Linked DNA regions of Homo sapiens: region 2 is linked to region 1. A link means that fine-mapping ties the variant in region 1 to the expression of a gene that starts in the linked region. Tissue or cell type: whole blood. Region 1 holds a variant in brackets; the other region holds the start of a gene. All regions are shown on one strand. Distances are from middle to middle.

What was found. PIP is the estimated chance that this variant, and not a neighbour inherited with it, causes the effect.
Region 2: it holds the start of DUSP23, and the variant in region 1 is fine-mapped to the expression of DUSP23 in whole blood (TOPMed, PIP above 0.99).

What each region holds. Positions count from the first base shown.
Region 1 is chr1:159,749,142-159,757,247 of GRCh38, reverse strand. No RefSeq gene overlaps it. Among named protein-coding and RNA genes, the nearest start is that of DUSP23, 28 kb to the left of the region's middle. The variant T/C (reference allele first, on the strand shown) is at 4,944.
Region 2 is chr1:159,777,700-159,785,805 of GRCh38, reverse strand. DUSP23 (dual specificity phosphatase 23) reads right to left here and starts at 4,844. Exons shown (of 2, transcript NM_001319658.2): 1 at 4,439-4,844; 2 at 3,263-3,653. The coding sequence starts at 4,705. The coding sequence ends at 3,468. It overlaps LOC101928264 (a long non-coding RNA gene), which reads left to right and starts at 6,425. Exons shown (of 3, transcript XR_922193.3): 1 at 6,425-6,580; 2 at 7,145-7,391. RefSeq lists an enhancer at 3,952-4,528 and a silencer at 4,520-4,909.

The DNA of each region.
Region 1 (8,106 bases):
TGTTTAAATATAAAGTAATATGTAACATAAAAGCGGCACAAGTGAAGCTTTTTGAATGTTCAGAGGAATGAGAGATCACTTCCAACTGGGCAATCACAAAAGCTTCAGGAAAAAGTGATGTTGAGTTAGGCCCGGAAGGATGGACATGCTTCACACGTGCAGGTATTAGGAGAGATGATGGGGTGAAGCAAGAGAAGATTAGCTGCCGTGAGTTGAATACTGGGAATTTTAGGCCCTGTGGCATTTGGTGGGGATGATATTTTGAGCAGGGGGATTGTGCCACATCTCAAATTACACCAGGCAAGTAGTTGCTTACTATTCTGTTTATGGGATCAACGCTGCCAAGGGCATGCTACCTGCAAATGTGGATGGGAAGGATGAGAGAGAGAGAGAGAGAGAGAGATAGAGAGAGAGAGAGAGAGAAAGAATGCTAACTGAAGCTTCTACATAGCTGACTGCTCAGAAAACCCAACACATGGAGCTATGTTCTGAAGTAATTGCCTAAAACCTTTATCAACAAATAGTTTTTAGACTTTGGTATGGAGGAGAAAATTCTGGAAGAGAATCTACAACATTTCACAACACTGCAAACAGGGGGCATTTCAGGACATCCCTGAGGAACACAGCAGCATGCTCAACTTCCTCTTAGATGGCCTTGCATTTCTTACAGCCTCCTTGTGACCACAGGAGCCTGGTGATCCATGGAGCAGTAAGCCCAGCAAAGCCTAAGAGTGGGGCTCTGGAGGGACAGGTCTGTTGTTCTTTGTAGAGATTGATGGATTTGTTACAATTAGTAATAGGTGGCTTTCCTGAAATTCTGCAATTACCTCTTGAAATAGGGAAACCTCTGATCACATGGGTAGGATATTGCTAAAGAGGTGAAAACTTACTTGGGCCATTTAAACAGGTTCCTGCCAGTTTCCTATAAATGAAAGTTTAAATAATCCTCCTTTCTCAGTTAGGAAGAAAATCAATATCTGATTACAGCAGAATTCAATGCCATTCTGCCTGATTCTTCTATGCTTAGAAAACCCACAGAAGGCAGGAGCTCAGACGGATGAACCATGGTGTCCCGACTCAATGCAACTTCTCTTCTGTTTTCCATAGAGTGTTTCCAACAGTGTAAATCAACAATAATCATAGTTGCTATGTTAGTGTTGTACAATGCTGTACAGGCGATAACTTACTTTCACAAACATGTCTTATCTAATCTTCATAAAAATTCATTGAGGTGAATATTGCTCTCCTACTTTTACGGAGGAGAAAACTGAGGCACAGGTAACTAAAGCAAATTATCCTAGATCTTTGGATGAGCATGTATTAGTGATTAGTGTTTATGTCTGGTCTTAGGAGTAGAAATTCATTTGTGCTCTTGAGCAAGGTCCAAAGATGAGAGGCAGGATTGGGAACTGTAGGTGTAAGGGTGAGTTCAGAGCTGCGTTGGGCAAACATCTGATCATCTAGGGATAGGCTGTCCCCACACAGGGACAATCTTTTACCAGTCTTCTCTCTGCTAGGGAAGGTAATCAGTGGCAGAGACCCTCACATCTGGGAGTGACTAAAGTTATATGTTCAAATCTTTCATTTTTTTTTCAAATGAGGAAGCTGAGGTTGAGTGAAGTTAGGTGACTTGCAAAGACACACAACTAACTGGCGATGAAAATGGGATCATTACCCAGTTTTCTACTCTTACACTGGAATTTCTGCCACTGCACCTAGATGCTCTTCCTGCTTTACTCTCTCTTTTGATTAGATAGAAGTGTGTTTACAACATAAAGTGATTGGGCATTTGTTAGGTAAGTGGAATAAAAGTAACAGTTGCTACTATTCATTGAACACCTATGATGTGCTACAGTGTGCTAGATACTTATCATGCATAATTTTTCATCTTCGCAAGAACTCTGCAAAGTCTCTCTCTCTCAATGTGTATATATATACATTGTATAATATATACATTGTATACATATATACAATATATACAATGTATATATACATATACTGTATACATATATACACATTGTATACATATACACATATATATACATTGTATATATACACAATATATACATACATATACATATATATGTATATATACATATATACATTGTATACATATATACAATATATACAATGTATAATATATATAGTATATGTATATGTACAATGTGTGTATATATATATATAGAGAGAGAGAGAGAGACAGACAGAGTCTCACTGGAGTGCAGTGGCATGATCTTGGCTCACTGTAACCTCCATCTCCTGGGTTCAAGCTATTCTCCTGCCTCAGCCTCCCAAGTAGCTGAGATTACAGGCGCCCCCCACCATGCCCAGCTAATTTTTTTTTTTTGTACTTTTAGTAGAGATGGGGTTTCACCATGTTGGCCAGGCTGGTTTCGAATTCCTGACGTCAAGTGATCTGCCCGCCTTGGCTTCCCAAAGTGCTGGGATTACAGGCATGAGCCACCGCGCCTGGCCCTGCAAAGTCTGTATTTTTATCTCTGTGAGGATACTGGGACCGGTGATGAGGAGGGACTTGCCAAGACAATTTTGAGCCCGTGCTGTTTTTGTTGTGCAGCGTGGCCTCTGCAATAATTTATCTTTTGTCCTAGAAAACAGAAATATTTGAATTTTTTATGTGGTCAAATATCACTTGTTGGAAGTCATTAAAATTCAAATTGTCTGCATTTATTCCTAGAACTACACCTGATTAAAAAGGGAGATAAGGGAGATGAATCAGTTATCACCTTTAAACAGAGTCTTTAGAAGTCTTGATTAATAAGTACGTTTCAACATGAAGGAAAACCAACATTTTTTTTACAACTATAATTCAAGTTGTATGCTTAAGTAATTTTTTTTTTTAAAGAGAGATGTTTTGTTTTTAACCCTTATTCCTCCAACACGCCGGCGCAGAGTTCTAGAGGCACTTTTGTATTAATTAGTTCTTTCCTTCAAATTCAAATACCTTTACAATAGCTAAGGATATTTATCATTTAAATTCAGAGTTTGATACACTTGCTTCCTCTTAGCATCTGTGATATGCTGTCCAAATTGAAAAAAAAAAGCATTATTTTTTTCTTTGTTTCACTTGGAAGGCTTTAGGAAATGGGAAAGTCTGAGCACTGTGCCTCCCAGGAAGGATTTGGATCACCGTTGGGCAGTATGAATTTTTTTGGGTTTGGGAACCAGAAGGGAAAGGGTGCCAGGAGGTGGAAAAATGGTACTGACAGGGATGTGGCTGTTCTTGGCCAGTGAGCCCTGAAATCCTGATGTGACATAGGTGGCTAATTACTGCACTGTGTAGAGGTATCATGATGCGTCTTTCAGCATGATTCCAGACACAGCGCCTCTCTCATTTGACTCCACTCTTTTAACATGGATCCCCGGCTTCTACCTGCACAACCTCGCATGGTCACATCTCCCACAGAAATGAAGGAAGAGCCTTCTTCCCTGAAACAGCAGGGACTTTCGTGAAGTTCATCATGATGGTGCTTTTTAATTGGCTGTCTTGGCCTTTTATTTGTTTTCTGACCCTTGGACTTGCATTGCTCCCTGGTGCCTGTGGGTTTCCTGGTTTCTAACTGCTGGCTTGATTTTTAACCTACACACTTAACCTGGACTCCTGATATGCATGTGATTTCTGACTTCTCATTTGGCTCGGAGCCTTTTTGACTTTTCCCGTTCCCAGTCCTGCCTGTAATTCTTAGACTTGTTGTATTTTTCTACCTGGCTTCCCACCTTGGCTCTGGGACTCTTTGTCAACACCAGTCTTGATCCAATAGAGAGACTCGATCTCATTGGGCAACCAGGTAAACAAGAGGACTGGTGAAGGGGTTGAGAAAGTCACATCTTCATCTAGCATTTGGCACAATTCTCATGGCCTTTCTGATCATGGAGTTGACTTTATGTAATAAGAGTTCGAAGAAGTCTTGAACAGAAAAAAATTTTGTAAACAAGAGGCAGTAATTGTTATTCTTTCCAGTTGTTGAGTTAGCTACACCTCTGTAAATTGTAACATAGAGTTTCAAATTTATATTGAATTCCTGCGGTGTCCTGAAATTGGGGTCGGTCTACCTTTCCGAAGAAGACCAGACACATTTCTGTGACACAGGATCTTTTATATAGGATTCATGGGTAATAATTTCTGCTGCTCCTTCTTTATTCCAAAAGTGAACAAAAGTCAGTTTTTCACACAGGTAAAGTTACTAAAATTGTGGTAGGTAAAGTTACTAAAGCTGTAGTAACTTTACCTGTGTGAAATCCTAACTTACTTCAATAGGATATTATTAAAGGAAGGAGAATTTCCACATTCAAGATAACTAATCCAAATCAAGATCTTCATTTGGGAAAACCAGACTCAATAATATCAGATCCTGGCATAGCTCTGGCATGTTGTCTTGCAGGTATGTTGAGAGTATACAACTATGGGTAACCTCTTGGGCAAAGGAGCTCAAGATTAATTTCTTGTCATTTTCCACAAATGTATCAATGCATCTACAAAGTAAAATGGGATGGATTCTCAAATGTCAGTTCTTTCGAACCATTGATCTTAAGAATTCAGGTTGAGTTTATGTCTAGAATTTTAACTGATCATGACAGATAAATCTATGAGTCATTGTCATCTCTTAGAAGCTCATGATGATTTTAAGGGCGTGTTGTAACCACTTCTTTAACCAAAATCAGGCAATTTCAGGTGTGGCCCATAAGTAGTTAATTCCACAATGTTGCATTTTTTATGCTCCACTTGCAGCTGATTTGTGAGCTGTAGAGTTTGGCGGGGTTGGGAGTGTTGACCTCAGGAAGGATTTGCGACAGTGCTTGGCAATCACGTGACACACCAGCTATTCCTTCCCATCATTAACTTGGCATTGACTGGACAAGCAACAGGGCACCATTCCAGGTGTGTGTTGAAATTCTCTGGTGTCCTTTGAAATCCTAAGCAACAA[T/C]TTCCTCCCATTGTGCAACTCAAGAACTCTGATAAACAGTATGTTTGGCATTCTGTTCCTGGAAACGTCTCTTACAGAGGCCACCTATGGGTGTTCTAGAGTTGACTGAGGGACATCAGTGTTGGATGATGCCACAGAGGCTACCAGCTAAGTCTGTGTGGCAATAAAACACATCCTGTATAAGCAGAGACAGAGATGAGCAGGGGAAAATCCAAGCAAGATGTAGGAACAAATTAAAGGATGTATCACTCAGGCAACCAAGGTCATGGAGAGCAGAATAGAGCACCAAGAAAAGAGTTCCTGATAAACCAATGCACTAATTGGAAGTGTTTGTGGTGATGTGAAGAAGGCCTCTGGAGGCCTCCAGGGTGAGTTAAGGCAAGCAATCAACATGTCAAGGTAATTTGTTAGCAGTACTGGCTTTGGGTTAAGGTGTATAAACCTGCCTGTTGTGATGTATGAAGCCTGCTAACCGGAGGAAACTTGGCCATAGAAGGACAGCAGCAAAGTGGCGCCTGGTTGGAACTGACAAGAGGAACCACCTATACTTGTATCTGTACCTGTATCATCTGCCCCATGAAGGCAGGCCCTAATTACAAACCACTTATCTAGATGGAGGGGTGGGCATGGCCTCTCTATATGACCACAGGATATTTCCAAGTTTCCCTGATCTTACTGAGTAGTTATTATGAAAGGATGCTCTCAAAGAGCTGCAAGAGAAATAAAGGCTTTAATGAACGTGCATTTCTACAGGCCAAGCAGACCTAATTTGCCCTCTGAATTCACACCAGCTGTGCACACCCCTCACCGACTCATTCAGACCATACTGGTTGTGCACACTTTTCACGATCTCATTGACCCTGCATGACTCTGCTTTACACTTGAATGATCCCAGGAACCCAGACTGACTGTGCACAGCCTCACCTTCCCATTGAGCCCCCATAGGTTATACATCACACACCACATTGTCACTCTCACAGTTGGCTCTGTACATTTCTCTTCTGCTAAGCTCACACCCTTCACCATCTTAGTGATTTCATATCCACTTTGCACTGAGCTCAGCTGAGATCACATGGCCCACTGCATTGACTTCACACAGATTATACAATGCTATGACATCACCCACTCTTTGGCCACTCAATATCTGTTTTTCTATTCTTCCTAGAAATAAACCCTGGTTGTACTTTATGCACAGCTAAGAGACAACATTTCCTAGCCTCCCTTGCATTCTTATAACATTTTGTTATATGATTAAGTTCTAGCTAATGAGATTTAAACAGACGGGTTTGGGTGGGATTTCTGAGGGTGTTCCTTGAAGTGAGACAAAATTCTGGGGTCTAATCTTTTGACCTTAGTCTTTCCATTTTCCCTCCCCTACTGGCCCCTTTAGTTTTGAAAACAGTTAGGTTGGTGAGATTTCATCATTCATCTTGTGACTTTGAGAATGGAAGCCACTTAATAAGAATGGTTGGTCCATAAGTTGGAGGGGATCTGAGATCTTGATAACTTTATGGGGCAACAAAACCACTTCCTGGGCCTTCTATCTTGACTTCTTTTATGGAAGAAGATGAGCCCCCCTAGTTCTGCTTAAGCCACTGTATTTGGATCTCTGACACTACAGGTGAATGCAATTCTGTTTTCTTTTGTTTTTTGTTTTTTTTTTTTTTTTTTTGAGATGGAGTTTCACCCTTGTTGCCCAGGCTGGAGTACAATGGCATGATCTCGGCTCACTGCAACCTCCGCCTCCTGGGTTCAAGCGATTCTCCTGCCTCAGCCTCCTGAGTAGCTGGGATTACAGGCATGCGCCACCACACGCGACTAATTTTGTATTTTTAGTAGAGACAGGCTTTCTCCATGTTGGTCAGGCTGGTCTTGAACTCCTGACCTCAGGTGATCCACCTGCCTTGGCCTCCCAAAGTGCTGGGATTACAGGCGTGAGCCACCGCGCCTGGCCAGGTGAATGCAATTCTTACTGGCGCAACCCCTCACCATTCTACTGAGCTCACCCTGACTATGCGTGTGCTTATCATCCCCTCAGTCTATGTGTACTCTGTATATTGTCATTTGACTGGGATGGTGCATATGTGGAACAGCTGTCTTTTACTTTTTTAAATGCTAAGAATAGCCTCTGAACTTTTCTTTTGACTTAGTCATATAAAGTAAGATGGATCAGACTCTCTGAGGTACATAAATCACATTCTGTAAATGTTAATGGGGAGAGACTAACCCAGTACAATGCAAGTTGTACACAGGAATCAATACTCAGGTGATGCAGAGAGATGTTAGGATCAATGGTTCTTCCTTCCCTGAGTCAGCACCAAATCATGTCATGATGATTACTTGTGCATCATGGAGGCTGGGATAGGGTCTTCAATGGCAAACGTTGCCATTCCTTAGTGTAAATCTGAGTCTCACCCACTACACTTCCCAAAAGACTATATTTGAAAAAAATTTGCACATTAATATATTTTCCTTACCTTGCAATTTTGCCTCTAAAAAATCAAAAGAATAAAACTCAAGGTAGGGAGATAGCAACTGGAAAGCAGGAAGTAGAAAGATGGGCTCACACGAGGGCTGCCCAGTACAGGAATATGGTGTAAATGGTGCCCCCTGAGGGTGCAAAGTAGTGTTCCAGCTTATTCCCACCTCCACCTCATCTTCCATCCCAGCTGCTGTCAGAGTCTTTGGACATGGCCATGGTGACTCTGGGTTCAGCGCCTCCTTATCCTTTTAGCCCATTCCCTGGTGTTAGCATGGTGGAACAGAGGGAAGGGTCCTATCGAAGGACAAGTTTTCAGGTAAATGGTTACCACAGCAAGGACTATTCAGGATGCAAAAAACAAGCTTGAGAAGAGTGTGCTTGAAATCTTTAGATAGGCAGCTGATACCTGGGCATAAAAATCACCTTTTCTTCTTTCATCACAACTAAGAGGCATGACTTAAAACCTTTAAGAGTAGATTTAGTATAAAAATGAAATGATATTATGTGAAACAAGGCATTCTTAGGTTCCTGGACTCTGCACTTCTAGGCCTCTGCCCTTCTTAACTAGTTGAGGTACCAGAGGAACCATAGGATGTAACTCAATGACCCCCTTTATAAGACTCTTGATGACTGGCTGTGACTGGCAGGTGGGGGCCTGTGACTCTTTGGCAGCCTCAAGGC
Region 2 (8,106 bases), 29 kb before region 1:
TTTAGATCAAATCTCTGCCCCAGGTAATGTGCTCACCATTGCCCCGGGAAGACTAGGTCTTGGGGATAATGCGGGGCAGGTGGGACCTCCTCAGCCAGAGGAAGAGCAGTGATGAGCCTCCTGTGGACAGGAGCCCCAGGTGTTATGAATGGGTCAGGATGTAAGGGTGATGACCAAGTATGGCTCCAAGGGAGGTGTGTGCCAGCCTCAGTGTATGCAGTGTATGCAGGAAATAGGCCTCAGTGGCCTATTTCCCCACTCCAGTCCTCTCTAGAGCAGGACACCTATGTTGGGATACATGGCTTATGAAGCAGTCATGGAATCCAGAACCCAGAGAGCAAAAGGGCCCCAGTCAGGGAAGGATGAGGAGGAATCTTCTCAGAGAAGGTGCTTGTTAAGGTTAAGGTTTAAGGCTGGTGCTCCTTCTGACTTGCTTCCAGTTGTTTCTGCAACTGGATAATTTTCTGAAAGGGGAACCCAAGAGGTGACTACTGCAGAGCCCCAATGATATGAAGGAATGTTTTCCAGATAGAGAAGCCTCCGTTCACCAGAGAACTCTGATCACGTACCAGAGAATAAACATGAATTAAACGTAAAAAAAAATGGGGGTGGGAGTAGATGTTACTGCAGCTGTGCCCATCAGCAGCTCATTGAGAATCAAAGTCTCCTGAATATGGAAAGTTAGCGGTGTCTATCACTGTCTTGGGAAACCAGCCAGGAAAAAGGCTGACGGACCAGGGATGGCTACCAGACATTGCTTGAAAAGGTAGGAGGTTTGAGTTGGTCCTTTCTGTCCCATTAAGATGTGTGCATCCACAGGAGACATTACCAAGTATGTTCCCACCTCCACTCCCAGAGGAAATGAAAGCCAATGACTGCATCCAGTGCTTGTTGGTCTCATGCAGTTCTCAGCTGAGGCTGATTTTGCTCCCCCAGGGAACATTTGGCAATGTCTAGAGACATTTTTGTTGTCACAACTGGGGGGAGGAGGGGTATCCTACTGGCATCTAGTGAATAGAGGCCGGGCAAACTGCTAAAGATCCAACAATGCACAGACAGCCCCAACAACAAAGAATCACCCACTTTCAAACGCCAATCGTTGAGATATCCTGGTTTGAGGCGAATGTTCTTTTTAGATGGTGGCACAGATCATCTATCTCAGCGTAGAAAGGGAAGGGACATGGCTCGTCTGTTACCCCTTATTGGTAGCCATAGACATAAGAGGGCTTGGTGAGAAGACAAAAACAACTGGGAGTGGAAACGAGCCCAAAGGAAGCCACAGGCTAACCCACCAGGTAGATGGAAGGATAAGGGCAGAGTTTTTCATTTCAAGCCAACTCTTATTATTTAAAAAGCAGTTTCCTTAAGCACTTAATTATACGTGTATTTCCCTAAGGAACTCTTGAGGCAGAGGAGACTTGCTTAAATTATGGGGATGGAGGCAGTACACAGGGCTTTAATGGGGTTAGCAAAATTTTGTTTCCCTTGCAGGAGCCTTGGGAGGAAGGGAAGGGCATATTCCTCTTCCACAGTGCAGAGATGTGGGGAGGATGGAGTGACACAGGAACAGAGGCAGAAAGGGCAAGGATTGGTTGTATGGCCTAGCAGGTGAGGATCAGAGTGGAGACACGAACTTGGGGAAGCTTCATGCCTCACACCTCTCTCTCTCTCTCTCCATCCTGGTAAGCCCTCCGACTGGAGGGGAGAGGTTCAGGAAGTGGCCCATTCACACCCTTCATGCCCTACTCCCTTCACATGAAAATACACACACACCCCTTTGGAAGATGTTCTGGTTTGCATCAGAAACAGAATGGGGCCATACTATTGGGGGAGGGGTGGATGGGGGAGAGCAGGGTAGACAGAACTTTTGGTGACAGGAGGGTAAGGGTTTCAGTGCATCCTCTATTTGCATTCTCATTCCTCTGTTGCAGCTGGAATGCCTGGAATGTGTGGGTTTCTTCTCTTTGGGAGACATCCTCACTTGAGTAGGCTAGGTGGAGACTAAGCTTGAAGGAACTGATCACTCAGATTTGACAAATAAAGTTAAACTGGGGAGAGGGCATCTTATGGCCTTAGATTGGCAAGACTTCAGCTGATATCTCTTGTTTAAGGTTGAGTTGGACAGGGATGAACTGGGTGGTTAGTGGTGGAAGGGGGAAAGCAGCAGAAAGGAGGACCAGTTGGCTAGGCCTGTCTCTGGTCTATGATACAAAAGATGAGATCTACAGGGGAACCCTTGACTCCCCACTCTTCTATGTCTCCACTGGAACTGGAATGCATGTCTACAATAGCATCCATTGTCTGTGGTGGACTCTATCTGTGCCCATCTTCTCCAGCAGGCTGAGCTCCTGAGAGCAGGAATTATGTCTCATTCCACTGTGCGGCCTCCAGATCTAACAGAACTCATACAGGTACGTACAGGAACTCACATATTTTATGGTGAATTTCTATCTTATTCAGCCTGCTATTGCAGAAAAGACCACAGGCAGACCTACAGTAAAGAGTCCATTGGGCGGATATATGCCATTCTTCCCATTTCTCATAAGTCAAAAGTGTAGTGGTGCTGGCAAAACAGGGCCCAACAAGGGGGCAGAATGGGGTCCAATAGGGGATAACTGGAGATAACATCTGAGAAACATGGCCAAGATTTAGAGCCCTGGAACTCTTCATTTAATTGTTAAATATCTGCTCTGCATAACTGCCTAGATTGGCTCTGTTCTCAGGTCCTTTGGCCTGAGGTTGTGGGGCAGCAGAATGAGCCAGAGAGCCCAGATGAGCTGAGCAGCACCTGAGGTTGGTAAGAGGTGACCAGCCCTGTGGAGGTGGAGATGGTGGTTATCTGTGAGTGTGACATCCAGGCTGTCTCTACCCCCAGATAAACAAGGGTGACACGTGTGCAGCAGGTGGGCCTACACGGAGGGGCCTCCTGGCCTGTGAGCATCAGAGACCTGGGAATGCCAGGAGGCCAGGCTATTCTGGACCTGAATCCTTTTCATTGACTAGCTCCCCCAGAAAACACATCAAATATTGTCAGGGAACAGATACATAGCATTTCAGCATCTTCAAGGGATTGAAGACGTGTGTTGCTGTTCTGGCCCATCCTTCCACTTTCTAGAAGTGTTGAAGATGGGCCTCTCTGAGCTTTGCCCACCTCATCCAAAGAACAGAGATGGCCCATCTGTCTTTCCTGTATCACAGGGCTACAGTGAGGCTGAAGTAAGTTAATGTGTGGGAATGCTTTATAAAGTACCATGCAACGTGCCCTGGTTCGTAAAACTCATTTATTCAACAAAGCAGTACAAGCCTCCCCTTCAATCAGGACCTGCCTGCAGGGGTGGGCTACTTCAGTGTCTTCAGCCAATGGGAGCTAGAGGGTTTAATACTTTAGTCCACTTCCCTTCATCTCTGGCCCCATCGACAACATGGGGAAGGGGAGTGAGGGCCTGGTAGAAGGGTACTAAGGCCCCTTATTTCGTTCGCTGGTAGAACTGGAAGACTGCTTTCTCCTGCTCATAGGTCTCGATGGAGCCGGGTCGTAGTCGTCGGATTTCAGCAATGGCATCTCCTGCAGCCAAGCCCCGCTCCTTCACCAGGTAACAGGCCAGCATGGTGCCAGTGCGGCCAAAGCCCAGAGCACAGTGCACTCCCACAGCCTACGAAGAGGGGGCTCGATGGGTGCCACTCAACTCCCCCACCCACAACTGTTTCCTGCCCCTCACTTGGTTCTCCCCACAGCTCCTTCTTCTGTGCCAGGTCCAGGGCTCTGCAGCAAAGTCAGGGAGGGCTGTCCCTGCACTAGGTGGCTAGGAGGCCTCTGCACTGGCTGGTTCAAGAGCTGTCCACCTCTACACAGCCCTCCACCTGTGGTGTTCAATACAGAAGACAGTAGCCACGGCTACTGTGGCTACTGTACTCGAAATGTGGCTAGTCCAAACTGAGATGTAGTGTGAAAAACGCAACAGGGTATGAAGAGGTAGTAGAAAAAAGAATGAAAATATCTCATTAAGATCACCAAAGTTAATTTTATCTGCTTCCCTGCTTTTTAAGAATGCCGTTGCTAGAAAAATTAACATTACATGGAGCCACTTAGGTTCCATTATATTTGGACAGCTTTACTCTAGAAAATGGTAAACAGCCTCCACCTGACTTCAACCCCCACCTCTCCCAGGTGTCTGTCCACACCCTTCTCCTTCACAACTCACAGTATTAGCTGGTTTTCACTGCCTCTCCTCAAGCCCAGTTCGCACTGCTTCGCCCTCTCTTTAGTTCCTTCCGTTTAGCGCTTCCCTCCCCCGCACTGGCTTCCCAGTCTCCCGGCCCTACTGTCTGCCTCCCCGAGCCCAGTTAAGTTATCCCAGGCCCGGTCTCCCCAGCTCCGCCCGTGTCCCCCGCTGACCTTCCAGGCCCCTCCCTCCCTGCGCTGACCCCGCCCGCTGACCTCTCCCCGTGCGTTGGCCTCGTCCACGATCTGCACGAAGCGGTCGATCTGGTCGGGGGCCGGCGGGCAGAAGTCGGGGATGCGCAGGCGGTGCAGGGTGAGGCCGGGGCAGCTGTCGCTGTGAGGGGGCCCGCGCTCCGTCAGGGACACCAGGTGCCGCACGCCCAGGTCCAACAGGAACTGGTAGTGGGCGGGGAGCCGCGGCAGCGCCAGTCCCGCCAGCCGGCCCGGAAGCACCCAGGAGAAGTTGGGGGGCTGCACGCCCATCGCTGGGAAAGGGCACAGGACAGCGGGTCATGGGGGCCGAGGCTGGCCAGCCCCGCTCCGCCCACGCGTCCCCTCGCCCGCTCCGAGCCAAGTAACTCACCACCTACCTGGCCTCGGCGCCTCCCGGGCCACGTGGTCTGCAGGGCGCCGCCCTCGGGTCGCTCTGCCCAGCCGCGGGGATTGGCCCAGAACCTGGGGCGGGGCTGGAACGCGGAACCCAGTCTCTGAGCGACCGAGGGAAGCGCCGCGATCCCGCCCCGTCCGAGCAGATCACGCGGTGATTGGCTGGATCATCATAATGGGCGGGGGGTTACTTCCACGGGGTTCAACCCACTCAGCTAAGAAGGAAGACCTGGAGCGAGTTAGGAATTGTTTGCTGCGGATGGAACAACCCGGGGTCGGGCTCTGCTGCACCCTGGCGGCATGTTGCAGTCATTGCGTCACTGGCGCCTGCCCCTGCCTCCTCGCGGGCCGGCCTAGTTCTACCTCCTTCACGCTGGATGCCCTGGGGTTTAAGAGATGACAAATCGGCTTTCTCCCAGGACGAGGAGTCTCCTCTCTAATGATTGACTGGTCGTTATCAGCGACTTTTTGAACTGTTCCAGTAAGAGGGAATTACTGCTGCAAGGAGGCTATTCTCATTTTTTCATTGCTGGAACTATTAAAAACTTACCCAGGGTAATAATTATAGTAATAATAATAACCAGCACCAACTTCTCCTGTCAATCCAGTTGCTCCTCAGGACTTATTGAGCATTTATTATGTGCTAGATAGTCTTCTAAGCACTTAGCACATACTGACTCATTTAATTGCCACAGTAATCTTATAAGATAGGTGATCTAGTGAATCCCATTTTATGGATGAAAAAACAGAGGCACTGGAGAGGTTAATAAACTTGACCAAAGGATGATGACTAATGCCTCCAAAATCTTTAATAATATCGCCATTTCCTAAAGTTAAATGGAACATTGTTTTCTCTTCACATAACCCCCTCATGTCCCCAAATATTATCTGGGTTAAACGCTTGTGGGTTTTCTTAATTTTTATTAGTATTTCATATTTCTTCATTTTTCAAGGTTTCCTAGTTCTCTGGGTCACTGTCCCCTGGGCAGGCTAGAGTTGATTAGTGTTGTTCTTACTAGGTGGGGGCCCCTAGATCTGAACACCGTTTCCACTGTCATCTGACCAGTCCATATCCTCATTTGAATAATGTGCTTCTAGCGATGCAGACTAACTGTAATTATGAAAATAGTTAACCCTTATTGAATTTGTTTATGTACCAGGCCCTGTGCCAAGCGCTTTCTGGAAGAACCACATGTGAAAGGTATTTTTGTATCTTTTTTTGTACATGAATCATTGGAAGCTTAAAGAAGTTGGTTAACTTGGCCAAGGACACAGTGATCCAAGCCCAGGGCACTTGGCCATGAGGATGTATTATATTTCCTTCCCTTTGCACCCACCTATGACACACGTCTGACCATTTAAGCCTTTGGCTTCAGCAAGATGGAAAGCAATTTGTCTTCTCCTAAAGATCAAAGCCTGCTCTGACCCTGTGGGAAATACACTTACCATTTACCCAGACAATTACTTTCCCCAGGTTCCAGGAGGTGCCAAATCTCCCCTTTTTCTCCTTCCAGACAATCACAGCCCTCATTAAGCCCTTCCTGTTTGCACTCTCATTTCCTACATAAATTCCTATCAAGGTTACCAGCCCTCCCCAGTTTATTCCTTTCTCTCTTTCCCAGCCATGGCCTCTCAGCCACCAGTCACCTCTTCCCCCAACCCCCTGACCTCCCACTTCTCTTCTCAATTCAACTGCTCTTCAGGATTTCTGGTTGCACTACCTCTGGAGACAAGACTCTAGCATTTGTTCTTGTAAGTTAATCTTTTCTTAGTCCCTTTGCCTTGTTCTCCTTTCTTTGCTTCCCCTACTCACCAGGGAAGTTTCCACTTCACTCCCTACCCTCCTATGTGCTCCTTCTTTGCCTCCTTGATATCCAGCTCGAAGCCCATATTCTCCAGAAAGAGAAAATTTTTTTGGGAGACCGAGATCTTCCTCTTCCCTGAGTCCCCTACCAATGATTCTCTCCCTCTTGTGGGTTTCTGCAGGGCTAGCAGTGCATCCATCAAACCATTAGGGCCTCCATGTGGAGAGGCCAGTTGGCTCCCTTTTTAGGAAGCTCTGCCCTTCCCTTCCAGCAGACCCAGAGTGGAAAGGGCCCAGGGTCCCTGCCTTAAGCTTTGTCAAGGGTGCCATATGTCAAGGGTGCCATATGATGTTTTGTCTTGGGCCCAAGGGGCCTCAAACTGTAAGGAAAAACCCTCTCTGATGGTTTCCTGGCTCAGACTTCTGCAATTAACAGGACTTCTGCAACTAACCACCTTCTTGTCTGCCCACATACATGATACTGACCTTCTTTTATTCTCTCCTCTGTACAGAGTTACCTGACCCTCAGGAAGATTTAGGCTTTTTTTTTTTCTCCCATCTCACCTTGTATAAATATGTCTTCTCAGTATAGTAATGTCATTGGATTGAGGATACTTGTTTGCAGAGGAGGCAAGAATGCGTTGTTCCGTTTTTGAATTCCACACATCTAATATGGAGCCTGAGCCACAGGGCTCAAAATGTTAAGTAAACAAATGAATGGGAAATTAATAAGAAGAATGCATTGGCAAGACCGTGAAGGTACATTTCTAGGAGTGAATGTGAGTCTGTCGGACCATGTGGCAATGTGTATTTGTAATTCTTTTTAAATGCACAAGTTTGAGGACTGTGTTGAGTATTGGGTAGTATCTCTTTGAAGTGTATTTTTTACTTGACTGTGCTTTTAAATAAAGAATGGCTGTGTCAGTATGATCTTGGCTATGTCTAATTACTATTTTTGTGAAATGGGACAAATAAAGCTTGTTCTTTATAGAGCACTGCTCTTGTAGTGTGCATGTGTGTGATGGCTTGTGTATTTGAGTGCTTTGGAGGGGCCGTGTTCCTGGAGAACAATCTATTGACACTGATGGTGGGCTGAGTAGTAAGCTTAAGAAATTTCCCTGACTTCAAGGAATTTACAACATCCTTGCGGGGGATTTAGACTCTGATGTAATTATTCTCAGGACATATAATAAAGTACTAAATTGCTCATCAAAGACAATCAGATAATACATATTAAAAAGCTAATTGTGCAGTAAAAACAAGTGCAAAAGAAGTCAGTGGGGGAAAGATAAGCTTGAATTGGAACTACCAGAAATGTCTTATGAAGAGAGGGATTTTTCTTTCCATTTTGTCTACTGTCCAATGAAAAGCTCAGCAGACCCAGCAATCCCATTACTGGGTATATACCCAAAGGAATACAAGTCATTCTTTTATAAAGATACATGCACCATATGCTTATTGCAGCACATTCGCA